Linked DNA regions of Homo sapiens. The protein of the gene in region 2 purifies or fractionates together with the protein of the main gene of each other region. This does not show direct contact. Each region holds a gene or a part of one and is shown on either strand. Other genes may lie near its edges.

Region 1 (7,027 bases), on a different chromosome or scaffold from region 2:
CTTACAAATCAGTCAAAGACTGAAATTATCAAATGCCCATGAAAGAAAGAAATTTTTCTCTTTGTATTTCCTTCTAATAACAAAAAGAAAATATCTTTACAACAAGCTTTCACTTTTTAAAGAATTAAAATTATTACAGAAATCTCACTAGTCTTCAAAAATAGTAAATGTTATATAAATACAATTTTCTTATAGTTGAATTTTTCAGCTAGAACCTGCATTTAAAAAATTTCCTTTGGATTATTCCATTTAGCACTTCAAGTTTCTATTCTGCAACTCTAATAATAACTGGCTCAGATTTGTTAGGTTATATCAATCACATCGTTCAAAATTTGCTACTGTGTGTTAAATGTGTACAATAATAAAGTAAATGGGAGGAATGCATCAAATTTCAAAAGCAACATAATAATGAAAAATTCAAAAATAATATTACAAAAAGATAAAGTACAACAGGGATTCTCTTTCACCGTTACATTAGTGAAACATCTTTTTTACACCTTTAAAGCTAATGTCATAACTTTCATTTTTTAACTTATCAAGATGATGAAGTTTTTAGAAGCCCTACCTTTATTTTCAATCAAAAACTAAAATGACTGAATTACTTTTATTAATATACACATCAAGTTACTGTAACGGTGACTTCATGTAGTTTCCCCCTTAAAGATGGCACTTGCAGGTACAAAGATGCAGAGATGTCTACAGCCTTCAGATGTTTACTTGAAAAGATTCTTCAACAGCAGTTTGGTATTGGGTTTCTTCATCTAGCTGAAGATTCTAAAAACAATAACATTCATGTCAACAGGAAAAACATATTCAACTACTCTAATACTTTGCCCAAAACATTAGACATCTTGATACACATTACACATCTTGACACACATTACACACACTCAGGACAGTTATGTAAAACATATATAACAGTATCTTTTAAGATACAAGATTTGAATACCTGAACTTTAATAAGACATTAAGTTCAGTTGTAACTGTTCAAGAATAACAAACAAACAGAGAGGATCATCACAGAACAAAATTTGAGTGTTATAATGCCTTTATAAGTCATTCATAAAAAATATGGTTAACTGGAAAGCTGGGTAAGCATGCGCCTGTAGTTGCAACTATTCAGGAGGCTGAGGCAGAAGACAGTTTGAGCCTATGAGTTTGAGGTCAGCCTGGGCAACACAGGGAGACTGTCACTTTAAAAAATAAAAATAAAAAATGAAAAATAAAACTGAAGTTAATCATAACACACAATCATAAATGTGTCATCTCTAGAAAATAATGCCAAATATCTGACAGTAAACTGATTTTAAGAAAACAAGCATTTATTGAATTATGAGTTGAGTAAGAAATTTTTTGGGGGGCAGTTTGGCTCTGTCACTCAGGCTGGAGTGCAGTGGCACAATCTTGGCTCACTGCAACCTCCACCTCCTGGGCTCAAGCAATTCTTGTGCCTCAGCCTGCCAAGTAGCTAGGATTACAGATACGTACCACCACACCCAGCTAATTTTTGTATCTTTAGTAGAGACAGGGTTTTGCCATGTTGGCCAGGCTGGTCTTGAACTGCTGACCTCAGGTGATCCACCCGCCTCGGCCTCCCACAGTACTGGGATGACAGGCATGAGCCATCATGCCCAGATGAGTAATAAATTCTTAACCATAACATGAAGCCTACAGCTTATTCAATCGTTATAAAACTACTCCTTAATTTAAAAAATTATATTTGCTATCAATTTTATGCCCTATGCATTTCGCTTTAAAATCAAGGCCTCTATTTGACAATCTGAAATAATTAGATCACCTACTTTTCTTTTTTGAGACGGAGTCTCGCACTGTCACCCAGGCTGGAGTGCAGTGGCGTGATCTTCACGCACTGCAAGCTCTGCCTCCCGGGTTCATCCCATTCTCCTGCCTCAGCCTCCCGAGTAGCTGGGACTATAGGCACCTGCCAACACACCCGGCTAACTTTTTGTATTTTTAGTAAAGACGGGGTTTCACCGTGTTAGCCAGGATGGTCTCAATCTCCTGACCTTGTGATCCACCCACCTCGGCCTCCCAAAGTGCTGGGATTACAGGTGTGAGCCACCAAGCCCTGCCTAGATTACCTACTTTTCTATGGCAAGATAAAACAACTTGACAATTAGATCAAAAGTGGTTCACAAATTTTTGTATTTCCAAATACATTACATAGCAATCTTTCTTACAATGAGAATTTAATAATAATCTAGAATTACTTTATAAAATTGCTAAAGCAATAAAGCGCACCTAAATTTTACATATATTTGAATTTTTATTTTGAAATTGGCTAAATAATGCAAATTCTACAAAATTTAAAAACCATTTAACAAGAATGATGTAATTTCAACACTGGAAGGCAGACAAAAATGTATATTTTGTTCATGTCACTCTGCTTACCTAAACTGGAAAACAAATAGCCATTCTTTGTCAGGACTAATCTTAAATAAAGTTTTGATTAAACTGAAGTTGAATAAAATGCAATTTAATAATTAATAAAACAGGTTTTCACCTAATTAAAAAAGTATATCACACATTTAGAAGTACAAATTAATCCATTTTGCTTTATGAATTCATTTTTACATTATATAACTTCTCTTACACTCTTAGTCTCTTTGTAACCTGGCTTTGCCTGATAACTAAGCTCCCTCATTTTTAAAAACGTTGTGTCTTACATGCTAGATTTGAGAAATCTAAGATTTCTAGCATAATACAAGCAACTTATACTACATGAGAAATACATCCTCCATATGTTGTACCAATTTTACTTCTCTTGTAGGTACAATTTTCCCTTAAATCTTGACAGAGTTTTCATGTAAATCATCATTTTGTTAATCTGGGTGCTTGCTGTTACTCTTATTAATTCTCTCTCTAGTACAGGAGGTGGAGAGTAAACTCAATTTTTACCTTACCATTTCTACAAGCTAAAGTTCACCAGTATTATTAAAAACCTAAGAACTTGCTCTAAATCCATCCAGTAAGATACAACAGCTTGCCACAAAATTTAAGTCGATTACAAAAAAGTTATTTTAACTTTAATATTTAAACAGTACTTTCTTAATCTTGAAGAATTCACTTACCACAAATTCTCCATAATCAAATTGATGTCTCTGATTTAGATGACTAACGAAATTTCTGGTAATCTGGCTAGGATCTCCCCAAGGAAGAGACACACAAATAGGACATGTCTATAAGAAACAGATTGTTTTAAACAAAAAATAATAAAAACAATGAAATATTATACAATTGACAGTATTAAAATAACACAGGGATATGTTACCAAAAATATCTACGTGAGAAGCATTTTTAAAGGCCAAGTTCCATGACTAGATCATTTCCCAATCAATTACCTTAGATAAATGACATTAATCTAACACAGTGAGAAATCTTAGACATTCTATTCCTTAAATCTCTTATTACACAAATGTTTCAACAGAAAAACCACATCTAGCTTTTAATAATACCAACTGTAATGACAGTTATCACTAACTGGCTGCCTGCAACATATCCAATATATTATCTCATTTGATCCATACAATAACCATATAATTATTATTAGTTTTATTTCATTTGTAAGTAAAATAAAAATGAAGTAAACTGGAAAATTTACTTTAAATTGTATCCTTAGTTTTTCTTTTCTTTTCTTAAAACTAGAGACACAGTCTCACTGTTGTCCAGGCTGGGTCTCAAATTCCTGAGCTCAAGCAATCCTCCCGCCTTGGCCTCCCAAAGTGCTGGGATTAAAGGCATGTGCCACCACACCCAGCCATATCCTTACGTTTAAATGAAGTACATCTTAAAAACTGAATGGATAAATAACTGAAATAACACACAAAAAACCTTCAGTAATTAAACTCTAGCCAAAGTTTATGATATATCGAATATTATGCAGAAATGAATAAAAATTTGGTAATCCAATATAAAACTAAGTAAAATCTTAAATATGAGCGAGATTTCCTGGAACATCTTTGGCACTGTATTTGTCTATTTAAGCATAACTGAACCCATTCTAATAAGCAAAGTAGGTAGTACACCTTCTTAGGTGGTATGTGAGAGCTTAAGGTCATCCTCAATGGTTATTGAAGCATATTCTTTTTATTTTCTTTATTTTTAAATAGACAGGGTCTCACTATGTTGCCCAGGCTAGTCTCGAACTCCTGGGCTCAAGCAATCCTCCCCTCTCGGCCTCCCAAAGTGCTAAATTACAGGCATGAGCCACCGTGCCCGGTCCTGAAGCACATTCTTTCACAACTTTTCCTAGCATACTCACTAAAACAGCTTAGAAATATCTACAGTTCTTATTGATAACATTTTCCTTCCTATTCTCCTTTCTGAAGACAATTATTTATATATCAAAATGTTCAGCTGAAAGGGAAATCTCTCTCCCAGCTCAGTTTCTCCTGTTCCATTCACAGCTGAAATAACTTACCTATGAAACACTTCTAGGATCATTATATGTTGGAATCCTGAATTCTGCTCTATCTCCCTCATTATCAAAAAGCTCTCACCATTTTCTTACATACCCTCAAAATGTCAAAAAATATGTAGGCATCAAATACAAAGTCTAAGTCTTTTCCTTCCTTGCTTTATGCATTCACATACTATATGCTGCAAGAAAACAATAAAAATACCTACTGACTTTATTCTTACTTACAGGTATTTTCACCTACAGCAATCTACCTGACTAGATCTACTTGTCTGCCATCTACAGAGCAAGTAACTGAGGCCTCAATAGACAGGTTGTGCTACTGCGCAGGAATGAGTTCCCGGTTCATCTTTCATTACTTCACTCTTCTCCAGACTGTGCTATATTACCTCACACTATGCATCTCCCTTTTTATAATGAGAGTTACTGCAATTTTAAATATCTCATTTTGCTTCACAGTCATCAATCCTTTGTTGACAAAAATCTACCTTACTGATAATGCCCCAACCAAATATAAATCAACTACTTTCTCTTGCATACATGAAGTGAAATAAATAGAACAGCATGTTTTATTCTAAGCAGAAGACTGTCTCAAACGTATGTACTTACCACAGGAACTATCTGAAATAGGTGATTACTGTTACAGTGATCCAGTAAACGCTGTCTGGTAAAATTTGATTCTTGACACAGGGGACACTTAAAAGTAGGATGACCAGAAGAACTATAAAACAATTTTAAGTGAAACATACTTAATTCAGAATAACACAAAAATAACGCTCTCCTATTTTTTGAGGAATCACTATACATTTTTTAAAAAAGTTATAATTATTAGACTATTCAAAGATTCTCTCATTTTGAACATATGTATTCAGGAAATGATGCATTACAGAGGTTCCCAATCTCAGTTTACAGTACTCTTAGTGTCCTCAATAAATTTTTTCATGGCACCTCTAGGCCAAAACAAAAACAAAAACAAAAACCTAGCTGACTCCATATATTATGTAGTTAGGTCCAAACTTAATTGTAGTTGTTTTCTGATGCCAATAGCTGTCACTGTATGTCCCTTGAAAATTTTTAATATTCTGTAGTATTCCACATTTTGCAAACCTTTTATCTAGGAACTTAAAACTTCTAAAAGACTTCCATCAATATCGTATCTCTAATAAATACCAGGCCCTAGGAATCCAACATCCAAAATTCAAAGGAAAAGAAAAAACAAAAGCACTGATCATGAGAATGAAATACTCGAAAACATTCTGAGGATCAAGCATCACTGAGTTTTAATACTTCTGAATTTCAGGAAGGGACAGTTCAACACAGACAACTTTACCTGAATCGTGTGTGGAAGAAACCTGACCACAGTGAAAGAGAATAACTAAACTCTTCTAACCTAATGTGATTCTTAAAAGCAGTAACTGCATTTTCTATTTCTAAACTGCTAACTTCAAACACTATGCCTAATGATGTAACTGATTTTTTTTTTTTTTTTAAGTTTAATTTATGGCCAGGCGCAGTGGCTCATGCCTGTAATCCCAGCACTTTGGGAGGCCAAGGCAGGTGGATTATCTGAGGTCAGGAGTTCGAGACCAGCCTGGCCAACATGGTGAAACCCTGTTTCTACTAAAAATACAAAAATTAGCCGGGCGTGGTGGCAGGCACCTGTAATACCAGATACTTGGGAGGCTGAGGCAGGAGAATCACTTGAACCTGAGAGGCGCAGGTTGCAGTGAGCCAAGATCGCACCACTGCACTCCAGCCTGGGAAAACAAAGTGAGACTCCGTCTCAAAAAAAAAAAAAAAAAGTTTAATTTAAAAAGCTATTTGATAAGTGATAAATATAATATTACTTGCTAAAGTGGCAGGATTTTTCAAAAGCTTACCTTGTATTCTCTTGGTAAGTTTCTGTGTTATCAGATGTGGATGTTTCACTCCTATTGCTTAAGAAGCACAGGGGAAAAAGTTAATACCTCAAAGTAATGAAAACACACTAAAGGTTCATTATCTTGAACCATTAATGAAGAAGACTAGTCTGAATTTGTTTTAAAAGTCTGAACTTCAATACACCTTTTTCCTATTGGGTCCTTGAAAAAACAAAATTTGAACTTCAAATGGTTCTGAACTATGAAATAATTACAATATTAATTACTTTTAAATAAATTGACTGCTTACTAGATTCTTATTTATGTTCTTTAAAATTAACTTATGCACAGTTACAGAAGTATAGAGAATTTTGCAGAATTACCTTAAATCCCATTCCTCTACCTTTACCTAGACTAGTAAGGTTTTAAATGCTACGGTAGACTCAAGAATTTGTGAACTTTTTTACTTCAAACTAGGACATGGTATAAGGTTATGCCCTCCAAAGTGCAGTAATTTAAGAAAATATGTAAATGTTCATTATGTTTGTATTTTATTTCCAGAAAGGAAAGAAACCAGGCTTCACTAACATTTAATATACAGAACAACTTAACATCTCCACTTTTACCATATGCCAGAGAGTCATGTGTCACATGGAATATCAGAGGAATCCTGAGGGAAGAGTAAGTATTCCATACAGGGACCGTCACCTGTGTGCTACAGAATTTGATC
Region 2 (7,027 bases):
ACATGACGAGCCACCTTCAGAATTTGAAATACGAGATTTCCCTCACACAGGAGGAAGTCTGGCATTGAGAGCAAACGTTTCCAACGGCGAAGTGACTTTTCCACTCAAGTCAGGCGACTGCCGGTGTCTACAAGCACTCAGTCGCCCAGGAGTGAACAGAAGCAGCTACCTGGGGGGCCTGGGGGTCCACCAGCTCCTGCAGACTGGCCAGGTGACAGCAGTGCAGCTGGCGGCCGCTCCTGTACTCCCAGAGCCTCAGGGTGCCGTCCTGCACAAACCAAACACACAGGTTAGCACATGGTTGTGGGGCTTCCGTCAGGTAGGGTGACAGAGAGGACAGCTGCGTGTGGTCGGGGTTCCACTCCGTGACAGCCATGCCACCCACCCTCAGGAATTAAAGGCTCTCTGCTCTGACTGTGTAAATCGCTCATGCAAATCATCAAGGACAACGGTGGGGAACGGAAGGTGACCGATTCCCTGTTTCTCGAGTGCCAATATGCCCAGGCAGATGACAAAGCCAATGAGGCAGATCCTAGCAAAATAAGCCAAGGCCGCTAGATGGCCAGGTTGTCATCCGCCAGGAGGCCAGACCACATCTGCTGTGCCCGGGCCGGGCATAGACACGGGCATGCACACAGGTCTGCGCAGACACTTCAGCAATCATGCATTCCCACGGGGAGACACGTGTGGGCTCATGAGCTCGTGGCCACTGCTCCACTTCACTAAGAATGACAGGAAGGACATGGCCATCAGCAACCGTCCCACGACAACTGGTACAACCCTTCAGGAAGCCGACACAGGAACCAAGAGGCTCCACGCTCTAAAACCATCATCAATGGAAAAAAGCGTTTCTCTTTTTTTTCTTGGTTTTATCTGTTGTTATTTTTTTGTTGTTTAATTGAAATGGGGTCTATTCCACACTGCCCACTGCACTGCAGTGGCTATTCACAGGCTTGCTCCTGGCTCACTGCAGCCTCTGACTCCCAGGCCCAGGCAATCCTCCCGCCTCAGCCTCCGAGTAGCTGGGACTACAGGCATGAGCCACCATACCTGGCTTAAAAAAAATTCATTACAGCACTAATTCAGTGGAGAGAAATAAATCAATACTCATTAAATCTAATGAGAGAGTGTCTGTGCACTATTTGTAAGTATTTTTAAATGACTAAATGAAAAAGATGAAAAGTAAATACCCCAAACAGCTAACAGTAGATGCATATCCTCTGGGTGCCGAGGTAAGAGTGGATGTATGAATGCACACACACACGCATGCACATACACACGCACACACACACACCTTTCTACAAATGTGGCAGATAAACATGGAGACCAACACACACATCTACAGGCATTTCACTCACCCCCAAACCTCTCTACGAAGACAAGAAAAAGATGTTTAATAACCATGAACCCACTAAGACAAAGACAACAGGCAAGAAGAGAAGGCAGCCGCGGAGAGACAGCAAGGAAACCTGGGGGCTGGAGGCCAGGGAACAAATGCACCAGCCACAGAGAAGCCCGAGAGGTGCCAGGACCTGCCAAAGACCAAACCGGGCCAGGCAGCCTGAAGACCAAGGTGGTGAGGGGAGCTGTCAAATGTCTTTACAAAGAGAAACGGGACCTCCCTGATGCATCCTCAGCCCCAAACTCCAGGCCAGCAGAAGGCTCTGGGGAAACGGAGCCGAGGGGCCCCTGTCTCGGGGATGCCAAATACTCACTGAGAAGAGAGTCACCTAGCCCCTTCGCACTCACCTCCCAGAGCCCCAGGGGACAGACCTGGGCAAGAGTGAAGGCCGGGACACTGACCACCCAGAAGAGACCGACTGACCCACACGTTCTACGGAGTCCACAGGCAAGGGGCTGCTGCCCACAGACACCTGCTCTGAAGCCCCTCGGGCCCCACCCTGGGTGCACACACCCAGCCTCTGAGGCCGGCTGGTGCTGACTCCCATCACACACAGGCAGATGGCATCGCCAGACATCCGAGGAAAACCTCCAATGAGAAAGGCAGACAACACACTCCAGAGAAGGCAATCAAACACAAGGCCAGGAAGAAATTGAAGAAAGAAAAGTCCACGCTCATCTCAGTGAGATAAGAGACACGTGCACTATCCGAGAATGGGTGGCTGCAAAAAAGAACGTGCCGAGGGCAAGAAAGAACTAAAGATTCAAAATAATCCTAATAAAACTCAAGTCTCCACAGAAGGCTGGAAAGTAAAGTTGAGGCAATCTCCCAAGAAGTAAGACTATTCCTAAAGGAGTAGAAATACGAGATTGAACAGGAAAGAAAAAAAAACAGAGAATTATGGCCCAGCATGGTGGCTCTCGCCTATAATCCCAGTGGGCGGAAGTGGGTGGATCGCTTGAGGTCAAAAGTTTGAGACCAGCCTGGCCAAGCTGGCAAAACCCCATCACTACAAAAGTATAAAAAATTAGCGGGGCATGGTGGTGTGTGCCTGTAATACTAGCTACTCGGGAGGCCTGAGGTGGGAGGATTGCTTGAGCCCGGGAGGCAGAGGCTGCAGTGAACCGAGATCACGCCACTGCACTCCAGACTGGGAGACAGAGCAAGACTCTGTCTCAAAAAAAATAAGAATCAGAGCATTAAAGTGGTTCAACTAACACAAGCTTTAGAAAAAGTGAGCAAGAGGCAGGGGTAGAGAACAGAAGGTAATCATGTAAGAAAATGCCCCAGGTCGGAGGACACTGAAAATCACTGGCTGTGTGGCCAACTCCCCTCTGGGGCCCACCAAGTCACCTCAGTGGCTTTCACATCGCACACTGGAGCAGAGAAAGTCCTCCAGGCAGAAGGAGAGCCCAGCTGTCACCCCACGGACCCACGGCAGACAGCTGCAGGTTTCTACAGGAAGCGCGCGGGAAAACCCACAGGAGCAACCAGCTGGAGAGCACACTGTGCAAGGCCTCCCAAGCTCCGAGGGAAACCGTTTCAACCAGGACTTCTACGCCAAACTAACAACCAGGCCTCAAAGGAGATTAAAGGTATTTCCAGAAAAGCAAAGTCAGAAAACACTGACCCTCCTCGCGCCTTTTGGCAGCTACCAGATGACGTGTTCCACTCAAACAAAGCAGTAAGCCATGAGGGACAGATGGGGCCTGGGGAGGCTTCTCTGCCCGTGGAAGATTTTCCTCATATTATGAAAAAGACTGGAAGGTGCACAACAAACCGCTGACGAAGCCTGACCCTGACCCTGACCCTCTGGAGATTATGGCCACACTTTTCTTCTTCTCTCAGGTCGCGTGGCTGTGTGTTAATTTGAAGAGCAGGAACAGGAGGCTGTGAATGAAGCCCAATCAGAGAAGAAACATAGAAGCGGCCAGAAGGTCCATCAGCCATCCTGCCACACCACACAAAGGACCAACACAGACAACACAGGGAAGGACAGCGAAGAGGAAGGTGGTGGTGTGCGGGCAACAATTCCGCAAGAGGACAGAATCAGACCCTGTGAGGAATCCAAGGCCCTCACTTTGGCAAAATCACTAACAATCCTTCTAACACATTCCTTAGAGAAAACACGTCTCTCATCACTAAACTGTAAGGCTTCCAGGACCCAATTGCTGGGACACAGAAGCTGTACCCAACAAGCAAAAATGCACTGTGGTAACCCGGGTGCGGGCGCTCGAGCCTGTGGTCCCAGCTACTTGGGAGGCCAAGGAGGCAGATCGCTTGAGCCCAGGAGTTTGAAACCAGCCTGAAAAATGTAGCAACACCCCATCTTAAAAAAAAAGAAAGAAAGAAAAAAAGGAAAGAAAAGGAAAAAAAATGCAGCCCGTAATGGGATGGACTGAGACCCCTCCAAGAGTCAGAGAAGCCCCCGTCTACTGTTTCTACCTGAGATCCTGATCCCCGATACCATCGTAGATGCAGCAGCCGCCCTCAGAAGGGAGCCTTCCACACACCCGTGCTAGTTCATCCCACAGGCGAACACACACGCACCTACGCACACCCCACACGCAGTCCTGAGTGAGCGGCCGCAGGCGGGGAGCGAGCCGCAGGCAGCTCTAAGATCTAGTGGACAGCCACAGCCAGCCAGGGGCCAGCGATCCACAGGGGCCAGGTCCAGGAGGCGCCCACCCCACCCTCCCTGCAGGCTCAAGAATCCAGAGGTGAGTGACGCTGGGCAGAACACTTACCCCAGAGGAGGACAGAAGCAGCCCGGGCTGAGTTGGCACCACGGAGATACGGCTCACAAACCTGTGAGGGCGAGAGAGAGCGGCAGAGTCAGCGAGCCCAGCGCCCGCAGGGACCGGGAGGCCTGGGGAGGCCGCCTGTTCATCTAAGGAAGAGAAGCCTCTGCCCTAAACCCCCTGATCCAATAAAAACAGCCAACATGGGAAGTAGCTGTTAACCCTAACCTGGTTAGGGTTAACCAGGTGGAGGCCCCTGGACGCAGTCGGGGAGGTGAGTGAGGTCATTCCTGGGTCCCCAACAGCACAGCAACCTCTAACCCAGGCCGCTCCTCAGCCATGCCTGCCAGAGACCCAAGCGCCTCTGTGCCCCTCTGCAGCCCCCTCTGCAGCAGCTCTGCTCAGCGGCACCTCTACAGGCCCCCCAGCACCCACCCTGGCCCAAGGCACCTGCACTGTGATGAAAGGAGCCTTGGGGGAGACTCAAAGACACGGGGGAGACTCAAAGACACAGCACACAGGGAGGAGGGTGGAGGGAGGAGGGCAGCCAAGCCCACAGGTTCCTATCAGGGTCCTGACGGCCCCTCAGCAACAACTCTGAGTGACCTGGCCAGACAGCTGTCTCTGCTGAGCCCGGCCCAGTCCTCCTGTGAGGGGTTGGCCTGCAAGCACAGGACTCAAAGTCACAGGGACCCTCCCATCAGAACAGCCATGAAGAATAACCCAAGCAGCCCAGCTCGCCTGGAAACCCATCTTGGCTCGGGCACCTACAAGGGTGACAAGGCCCCTTTTCTTCCCACTCTAACACAGTGGCCTCAAGCAATCCCTCATGCACGGGGTTCCCGGGGACCCTGGAATGGGGTGGCCCGTGAGCCTCACTCCATCTCCACCAGTCATGGCCTCTGCTACCTTGGGCTAGCCATCGCGTGAGCCGGGCCCGGTCCCGCAGCCACCGCCCTGCACGGCACCACAGCACCAACAGCAGCCCACAGCCCAGGACAGATAGGGCACAGGACGCCCCGTGCAGAGGGCACGAGTGGCCTCACAGTTCTCAACGGTTTGAAAGGCCGGGAAACCAGTTTCCAGGGGTCTGAAACAAAATCTCAAAACATAATTCGTCCAATCACTGCAGTTATCTACTGAGCACCTACTCATGCCAGGCACCACGCTGAGGGCTGCACACACCAACAGGCCCAACAGACCCACAGAACCACTCAGACGCAGCGGGAGACGGCCAGTGAACCAACTGATACTGCAATGTCAGCAAAGGGCACAGAACAGCACATCCAGCAGAAACACACCTCCAGCCACACACAGGGGCCACGGGGCTTTGTTTTCAATTTGCCAGCCACTATGTTGAAAAGTAAACGGGCAGGCCGGGCACGGTGGCTCACGCCTGTAATCCCAGCACTGTGGGAGGCCGAGGCGGGCGAATCATGAGGTCAGGAGATCAAGACCAGCCTGGCCAACATAGTGAACCCTCGTCTCTACTAAAAATACAAAAAAAAATTAGCCGGGCGTGGTGGCAGGGGCCTGTAGTCCCAGCTACTTGGGAGGCTGAGGCAGGAGAATCGCTTGAACCTGGAAGGCAGAGGTTGCAGTGAGCCAAGATCACGCCACTGCACTCCAGCCTGGGCGACACAGCTAAGAAAGAGAAAAGAAAGGAAGGGAGGGGAAGGGTGGGGTGGGGAGGGGGGAAGGAAGGGAGGGAGGGAGGGAGCAGTTGAAGTTAATTTTAATACTATGTTTTTACTCAATACTTCTAAGTGATGAAGCATTTCCCTAGAAGGGTGAGAAGCGTGTTCCCGTCAGCAGAAACCTCCCTCACGTGCCTGGCGAGGCAAGGGAGCTGCAGAGACCCCAGCGAGAGATGGTGAAGGGGAGGGGCCGGGGGGCTGCAGGCCAGAGAACTCCAGAGCTGGATCACTAGCGAACTAAATGCAAGTCAGAAGAAGCTATCCTGAGGCACACACCAGTGACTGGCCTTCTTAAACAGGAAATGTTTGGATCAAAACCAGGAAAACACAGGCAACCTCGGCACTGAATTTCCTCCCTCCAATTTCTTCCACTGCCTCAAATAATATATTTTAAAACATTTCAGCCAATTACACTAAGCGTTTTTCCTTTGTGTAAATTCTAATGAGCTTTTTGTGTGAGACAGGAGCGGGCATTCAGAAACACCTCCACATGGGTCCTGGCAGAGTGTGCTGCCACGAGAGACGCCGCCACCTGGCTGCAGAGGCCGCTTAATTCTTGGACAGCTGAAATCACTAAAGTTCATCCTCGCCCCCAACACCCCCACCACCCACCAGCGAACAACTCCCGGGCATGGTGCAGGGGTCTCCACACTGAGACAGGGGTTTCCCGGAAACAAGCCCTTCCTGTTCGGTCAGGCCCAATGCCAAGTTACTGGCACAGACTCCGGGTAACAGCGCAGAGTGAACCCCACCCTTTCAGGGCTTCTGCAGGCAGCACCACGGCGCCTGCAGTGACCAAACACCAAGCACGGGGGCTGCTGTCACCCGCGTGGGGCCTCGCCAGCTACAACGGCACCTGCTGAGCCGCAAGCTGACGCTGTTTTCAAACAGACCTTCTTTCTGCTGGAGGGGCAGGAAGGGGCACTCACTCTGTGTGCCCCAAGCAGAAGGACTCGATGCTATGGGGCGCCGCGGCCCAGCTGACTCGGATCTTCTCGTCCCGGTCGGCAGTGAGGATGAAGCGGTCATCAGGACTCACAGCCTGCATCACCAGGGGCCAGAAAAGAAAAAGCCGCTCACCTGAGTCTTCCCGAATCAAGTCCCTCATGGAAGAAGGCAGGGAAGCTGCAGCCTGGCCGCCAAGAGGATGAGGCCTTCGAGGACAGACCAGCGTGGCTCCTCCCCTC
Region 3 (7,027 bases), on a different chromosome or scaffold from region 2:
ACAGGAAGAAATCATGTCTTTATGCACACGTGTGTGCATGTGTGGTATGTATGCATGGTGTGTGCACGTGTGCATTGTGTGCATGATTGCATTGTGTGGTGTGTATGCATGGTGTGTGCACGTGTGCATTGTGTGTGCACGATTGCATTGTGTGGTGTGTATGCATGGTGTGTGCACCTGTGCATTGTGTGTGTGCATGCGTGGTGGGTATGTATGGTGTGTGCACGTGTGATCATGCATGTATGGTGTGTATGCATGGTGTGCGCATCTGTGCATTGTGTGTGGATGCATGTGTGGTGTGTATGCATGGTGTGCACGTGCATTGTGCATGCGTGGTGTATGCATGGTAATGTGCACGTGTGCACTGTGTGTGGTATGTATGCATGGTGTGTGCACGTGTGCACTGTGTGTATGCATGGTGTGTGCACGTGTGCACTGTGTGTGGTGTGTATTCATGGTGTGTGCACGTGTGCACTGTGTGTATGCATGGTAATGTGCACGCATGCACTGTGTGTATGCACGGTAATGTGCACGTGTGCACTGTGTGTGGTGTGTATGCATGGTGTGTGCACGTGTGCACTGTGTATGCATGGTAATGTGCACGCGTGCACTGTGTGTATGCATGGTAACGTACACGTGTGCACTGTGTGTGGTGTGCATGCATGGTGTGTGCACGTGTGCACTGTGTATGCATGGTAATGTGCACGTGTGCACTGTGTGTGGTGTGTATGCATGGTGTGTGCACGTGTGCACTGTGTGTGGTGTGTATGCATGGTGTGTGCACATGTGCACTGTGTGGTGTGTATGCATGGTGTGTGCACGTGTGCACTGTGTATGCATGGTGTGTGCATGTGTGCACTGTATGCATAGTGTGCACGTGTGCACTGTGTGTGGATGCATGGTAATGTGCACGTGTGCACTGTGTGTGGTGTGTATGCATGGTGTGTGCACGTGTGCACGGTGTGTGGTGTGTATGCATGGTGTGTGCACATGTGCACTGTGTATGCATGGTGTGTGCACGTGTGCACTGTGTATGCATGGTGTGTGCACGTGTGCACTGTGTGGTGTGTATGCATGGTGTGTGCACATGTGCACTGTGTATGCATGGTAATGTGCACGCGTGCACTGTGTGTATGCATGGTAATGTGCACGTGTGCACTGTGTGTGGTGTGTATGCATGGTGTGTGCACGTGTGCACTGTGTATGCATGGTAATGTGCACGTGTGCACTGTGTGGTGTGTATGCATGGTGTGTGCACGTGTGCACTGTGTATGCATAGTGTGTGCACGTGTGCACTGTGTGTGGATGCATGGTAATGTGCACGTGTGCACTGTGTGTGGTGTGTATGCATGGTGTGTGCACGTGTGCACGGTGTGTGGTGTGTATGCATGGTGTGTGCACGTGTGCACTGTGTATGCATAGTGTGTGCACGTGTGCACTGTGTGTGGATGCATGGTAATGTGCACGTGTGCACTGTGTGTGGTGTGTATGCATGGTGTGTGCACGTGTGCACGGTGTGTGGTGTGTATGCATGGTGTGTGCACGTGTGCACTGTGTGCATGCGTGTGTGGTGTGTGTGCATGTATGCATGGTGTGTGCATACGTGTGCAGCAGCACCTGGTCCCATCTCCAGTGCCCAGCAGCATCACACGCACTTTGGTGCTTTATAAATGCATGGTCAGTGAGGCTGACAGCACCAAGCTGTCCCTTTACCATAACACCTGGAATAGTCACCTGTGATAAGCTATCACATAGGAAACATTTTTAAAATTTCATTCTCATTATTTTCTGTAATCTTGAGAGGTTCCAATCAACATTTATTGCCTTATTCTTTTTATCTCATTCCTTTTTGAATGTGTTTATCTCCTAAGATTTTATCTGTGATGGAGATGGGATGCCTGTGAATACAAAAGTTGCAGTGGTGGCACCAGGGTGGGGGGGTGCGGCCGGGGCCACCATGGTCTCCCCTGAGAGGGGGTGCTGTCTTAGGTGCCCCAAGAGGCCCTCGGGCAGCAAGCGTGGGGTGCTGCCAAAATACAGCTCCCCCTGGGTGGGCAGGACACACGTGGCCTCCTGGCAGACAGGTGCCTGGGTGAGCCCGCTGCTCCTGATTAGTCATGAATGGCACCTGGTCTGGGCGACAGTCACCCGCAGGAAGCCCTGAGCTGGCCACCATCACCCTGGGCAGTGGCTCCCGGGGTGCCAACAAGACCTGGGCCCCTCGTTCTTTGGTGCTGAGAGCCCCAGCTGAGGCTGTGGAGGAGGCCCTGGACCTGGTCTGGTGTCTGTCAGAGGCAGGTGCCCAGTCCTTTGACTTGCTTCTCTGAATTGTCATAATTGTGCTGGAATTGTGCCAGAAACTGGTAGTGATAACAGCTCCTGGAAGGCCTGTGGCTGCTGAGGGCTGCCTGGTCCCCCTCAGGACGGCCGGGGGAGCCTCTCCAGAAGCACCAGCTTTGTCTGCAGGTGGACGTTGAAGGGGGGCAGTTGGGTCAGGTTCAGACTCACACCTGTGGTCCCCACGACGCTGGCCAGGACCCGGTGTGTGTCCCTGTAGAGGGCCAGGAGCCCAGGGGCCGCCTCCATGAGGATGTGTGTGTATGCCAGCATGCCTGTCCCCGGCTGCACATCCTCCCTCTTGTCGTACCTGTGGGATGAGAGCTGGTGGTCCTGCCCAGGGCCCCCACATCGCCCTGTCCCCCGCCCCCAAGGGGCCCTCACATGGCCTCTGGGAGGGCCGTGCTGTGTGTGGATCCTACCTCCAGGCGCTGTTGACTTGGAGAAACCGAGACACACCTGTCTGGGCGGCTGCCACGTCAATGTGCAGAAGGACGTCTAGGAAAACCAGGCCTGCCGTCAGAGCCCAGCCCTGCAGTCGGAGCCACAGCAGTCCCCAGGCAGTGCCCCCAGCACCCACCTGTCTGGGGGGGCACCAGCTGGTGCAGCCTCTGCATTGCGACGCCACCTGGGTAGTTGAAATGGGACACATACAGGGCCGTGGCTGAGTAGGCGGCATTCACCACGAGGTGTCCGATCACAAGCAGAGACCCCGCTTTGTACAGCCAAGACTTTTTATAGTTATTCAGCCTGAAAAAAGAATGGTTACACATCATAGGCAGAACGTAATGACAATAAAATTAATCTACCTACAAAACATACTAGGAGCATAACCTGCTGTTCAACTTCACCAAGTCATAACAAAGAGTTCACCACCAAATAAAACAGAGTCAGTAACCCGTAAAAGTGGTTAAGATACTGCCTCAAGAATTGTCTGTGAAATTCTACCCAAGATGCCAATTTAAAATTTAGATGAGATTTTAAAATATATATATATTTTTGAGACAGAGTCTCGCTGTGTCACCCAGGCTGGAGTGCAGTGCCATGATCTCGGCTCACTGCAACCTCCGCCTCCTGGGTTCAAGTGATTCTCCTGCCTCAGCCTCCCAAGTAGCTGGGACTACAGGTGCACGCCACCATGCCCATCTAATTTCTGTATTTTTAGTAGAGACAGGCTTTCACTATGTTGGCCAGGCTAGTCTTGAACTCCTGACCTCGTGATCTGCCCGCCTCAGCCTCCCAAAGTGCTGAGATTACAGGCATGAGCCACTGCGCCCAGCCTAAAAATATATTTTCAAACAATCCCAAGTGACTGTGTAGGTCAGAGTGCCACCCGCGCGGCCAAGCCCACTCCCAGCAGGTCTGAGTGAACTCTCTGGGACAGGGTGCCGCCGGTTCTCTCACAATCGACTATGCCAATCTCAGGATCCTACGGCAGAGTTAGCAGCTGCCACAGACAGTGTGGCCCACGAAGATGAGGCTCTTTATTAGCTGGTCCTTAACGGAAAAGCTTGCCAACCCTGGTCTAAACGCCCTGAACCCCCGATCAAGACTCACTCTCTTCCAAACCCACCAGGCTCCTCGGAGCCCTCTTCTCCACAGGCCCTGCCCTTTGCTATGGTTTGGATCTGCGTCCCCACCAAATCTCATGTCCAACTGTGATCCCCAATGCTGGAGGTGGGGCCTGGTGGGAGGTGACTGGGTCATGGAGGTGGAGCCCTCAGGAATGGATTAGCGCCATCCCCTCCATGCTGTTCTCCTCATACCGAGTGAGTTCTCGAGAGGTCTGCTTGTTTGAAAATGGGTGACACCTCCCCCGTCCCTCTTCGTCCTGCTTTGGCCACATAAAAGCGTGCCCGCTTCCCTCTCGCCTTCCGCCATAATGGAAAGTTTTCCCAGGCCAGCCTGGAAGCTGAGCAGACACCAGTACCACGCTTCCCGTACAGCCTGCGGAACCGCGAGCCAATGAAGCCTCCTCTTTATAAATTATCCAGTCTCAGGTGTTTCTTTACATCAGTGCGAGAGCAGACTAGTGCACCCTTGAACAATCTCTGGTGCGGTTTCTGAGCTCGAGGCCCCACCTAGGATGACCGCAGCCTCCTAAGTGCCTGCCCCAAAGAGCTCAGCACTGCCAGGGCGTTCGTCCTTTGTTCCCGCCCAAACCTGGAGTGGGCAGTCACTGTGGAAAGCTCGCAATCAGAAACCTTCCACCCCCAGGACTGTCTCAAGGCCCTGGGCCCTGACACCGTGGGAAACGGCCTGCTCTTGCTCCCAGGGTGGCCGGGCTGAGGACCTGACTTCGGAGGGGGCCTTGCTCTACCCTGCACCCCCTCATTTGGACTCCCCAAGTTTGTCCTCCTCCGGATAAGGCCGACTGGCACAGCAGGGGCCCTTGCATGGAGCAGCCCCTCACGCCCAGCACACCAGGCCTCAAAGACACAGAGCTGGGTCCAGTTCCCACTGGATCTTCTTCCCTGCTGGAAAAGCCTGTCACCGAATACAATCCATCCGCGCCGCTCTCCCCGTCTTTCCTACCCTCTTTTCCATGACTCTGGCTGGGGTCTGCTCCTCCTCCAGCCCTGAGCCGACCCCTGAGACGAGAGGGAGCCAAAGGCACAGAAAAGCAGAGGCAGAGCTCCCAGGAGCCCCCACTGAGGCGCGGCTACAGCAGCCAGAGGAGCCCCCAACCCAGGCACGGCCACGGCAGCCGGAGGAACCCCCAGCGAGGAACAGTCACGGCAGCCAGAGGAGCTCCCAGGCCCGAGGGCAGTGCGGGGCAGTCGGAGCTGGGGGGCACCATCCCCTCCCCTGTAACAAGTGGCACCGGAAAGCACCTGACCGCTGCCTGAGATCAGGGACCGCATTGTGGGGCTTCCTCTCCAGCCAGAGTGGGCACCTCTCAATGCCCCAGGCCGCGGCCCTCCTGGCCTGTAGCCCTGCCGCCCCTCAATGCCCAGCGTGGCCTGAGTTGGCCTCCTGTTCCCATCAAGGCAGCAAACTCTGAACGGGCACAGAGCTGGCCAGCCTCAGCCCTGGGTTCTTCCGCAGCACCCACAGGGCCAGCAGTGATGGACTCTCCTGGGCCTGAGCCCCGGGTCCTTCCCCAGCACCCACAGGGCCCGGCAGTGATGGACTCTCCTGGCTCCCTGAGGCTTGCAACACTGAGTGGCAGCCGCGCTCAGACCACCCCACCCTCAGCCCAGGCAGTGCCCTCCCCAGGCCCTGCCAGGCCCCCAGCTCCACCTCCATCACCTGCTGCCTGCAGTCCCTCCCCGCAGGAAGCCCCCTGCCCTCCACAGGACCTTGAGCCTGGGCCACGCTGGGCCCTCTGCACCCAGCCATAGGCACCTCCCTCACCATCCCCCTCTTCCAGCCAGATGACCCGCCTTGACAAACGCCCTCAAGCCCGAGGCCCTGTCAGGATGGCCACGAACGCCCTTCCTCTACCTGACCTGTCGCCCTCAGAGCCTCCCAGGCCTGGCTGCCCCTGCCCTCTGCCGCTGCTACCTATGTGAGTGTCACTCTCCCATGACAGAGACTGGGACCGCTGGTGCATCACCATATGTGGACCAGTCACCAAATTAACCCAAGACAGAGACCACCTGAGCAAAGCCCTCTGTCAGCACAATGCCAGGCCGGTCCCATCCCATGCAGCCCTCAGGGAGGAGAGAGGACTGGGGTCACCCTCCTTTGACATAAGCGCCTAGTTCAACACACCCTGTGTTTATCTTAAAAAACAGCCCTGGTGGCTCACACCTGCAATCCCAGCACTTCCAGAGGAGGAGGCAGGAGGATGGCTTAACCCCCTAGGAGTTGAGGGGTGCAGTAAGCCCCACTCCAGCTGGGCGACAGAGCAAGACCCTGTTTCAAAAATTAAACACACACATACATCCCCCCAACAGTAAATCAGTGAACCTGTTTCCAATGAAACTATAAAAATGCATGTCACAAAAAGAGCACTCACAGGTAGGAGCAGCCTCTGGCAGCCGTGATGTTGAGCATGGGGAAGGCATAGATGATGAAGCGTAGCTCCTTGTGTGGCAGGAGGGAGTAGAGTGCCATGAAGCCCAGTGCCAGCACCGTCGGCGCGTGCGTCCTTCTGTCTACCAAGCCCAGGGGGATGAAGAGCAGGCTGCAGCCCAGGCCGCGGGGCAGGGCTGAGTAGAAGTACCACAGCAGCGGGGAGGTCTGCGGGCTGGGTTAAGGAGGCCACGCACCTGTCCACGCATGAGCCCGTGGGCTAGGTGGCAGGGTCAAGGTGGAGAAGACGCTTGAAGACAGTTGTGCTGAGAGATGCAGCCTGGACCACGGCTCGTGTGCACAGACACCACTCAGGCCTCAGGCCCCTCCTAAAAGACAGAGCCCAGGCCACAGCTCGGGTGCACACATACCACTTGGGCGTCGGGCCCCCTCCAGGCAGGACCAAGGCAGCAAGGGCCACAGGACGTTCGGTCTCTGTACCCTTTTCTTCACTGTTAAAAACAGATGGTCGGCCGGGCGCAGTGGCTCATGTCTGTAATCCCAGCACTTCGGGAGGCCAAGGTGGGTAGATCACGAGGTAAAGAGATCGAGACCATCCTGGCCAACATGGTGAAACCCTGTCTCTACTACAAATACAAAAATTAGCTGGGCATGGTGGCATGTGCCTGTAATCCCAGCTACTCAGGAGGCTGAGGCAGGAGAATCACTT

Evidence for each region. The genes of interacting proteins can lie anywhere in the genome.
Region 1: the proteins of WDR4 (region 2) and RNF138 purify together in Homo sapiens (affinity purification with mass spectrometry; 2 studies listed by BioGRID and IntAct, with this or other methods). This does not show direct contact.
Region 3: the proteins of WDR4 (region 2) and ALG12 purify together in Homo sapiens (affinity purification with mass spectrometry; 2 studies listed by BioGRID and IntAct, with this or other methods). This does not show direct contact.

What each region holds. Positions count from the first base shown.
Region 1 is NC_000018.10:32,122,866-32,129,892, reverse strand, and holds part of RNF138 (E3 ubiquitin-protein ligase RNF138), read right to left. Parts: intron 6,376-7,027; coding exon 6,319-6,375; intron 5,160-6,318; coding exon 5,048-5,159; intron 3,201-5,047; coding exon 3,093-3,200; intron 775-3,092; coding exon 706-774; 3' UTR 1-705. UniProt on the Homo sapiens protein: E3 ubiquitin-protein ligase involved in DNA damage response by promoting DNA resection and homologous recombination.
Region 2 is NC_000021.9:42,855,513-42,862,539, forward strand, and holds part of WDR4 (tRNA (guanine-N(7)-)-methyltransferase non-catalytic subunit WDR4), read right to left. Parts: intron 6,883-7,027; coding exon 6,770-6,882; intron 4,211-6,769; coding exon 4,150-4,210; intron 269-4,149; coding exon 170-268; intron 1-169. UniProt on the Homo sapiens protein: Non-catalytic component of the METTL1-WDR4 methyltransferase complex required for the formation of N(7)-methylguanine in a subset of RNA species, such as tRNAs, mRNAs and microRNAs (miRNAs).
Region 3 is NC_000022.11:49,901,420-49,908,446, forward strand, and holds part of ALG12 (dol-P-Man:Man(7)GlcNAc(2)-PP-Dol alpha-1,6-mannosyltransferase), read right to left. Parts: intron 6,526-7,027; coding exon 6,302-6,525; intron 3,088-6,301; coding exon 2,918-3,087; intron 2,836-2,917; coding exon 2,760-2,835; intron 2,648-2,759; coding exon 2,419-2,647; 3' UTR 1-2,418. UniProt on the Homo sapiens protein: Mannosyltransferase that operates in the biosynthetic pathway of dolichol-linked oligosaccharides, the glycan precursors employed in protein asparagine (N)-glycosylation.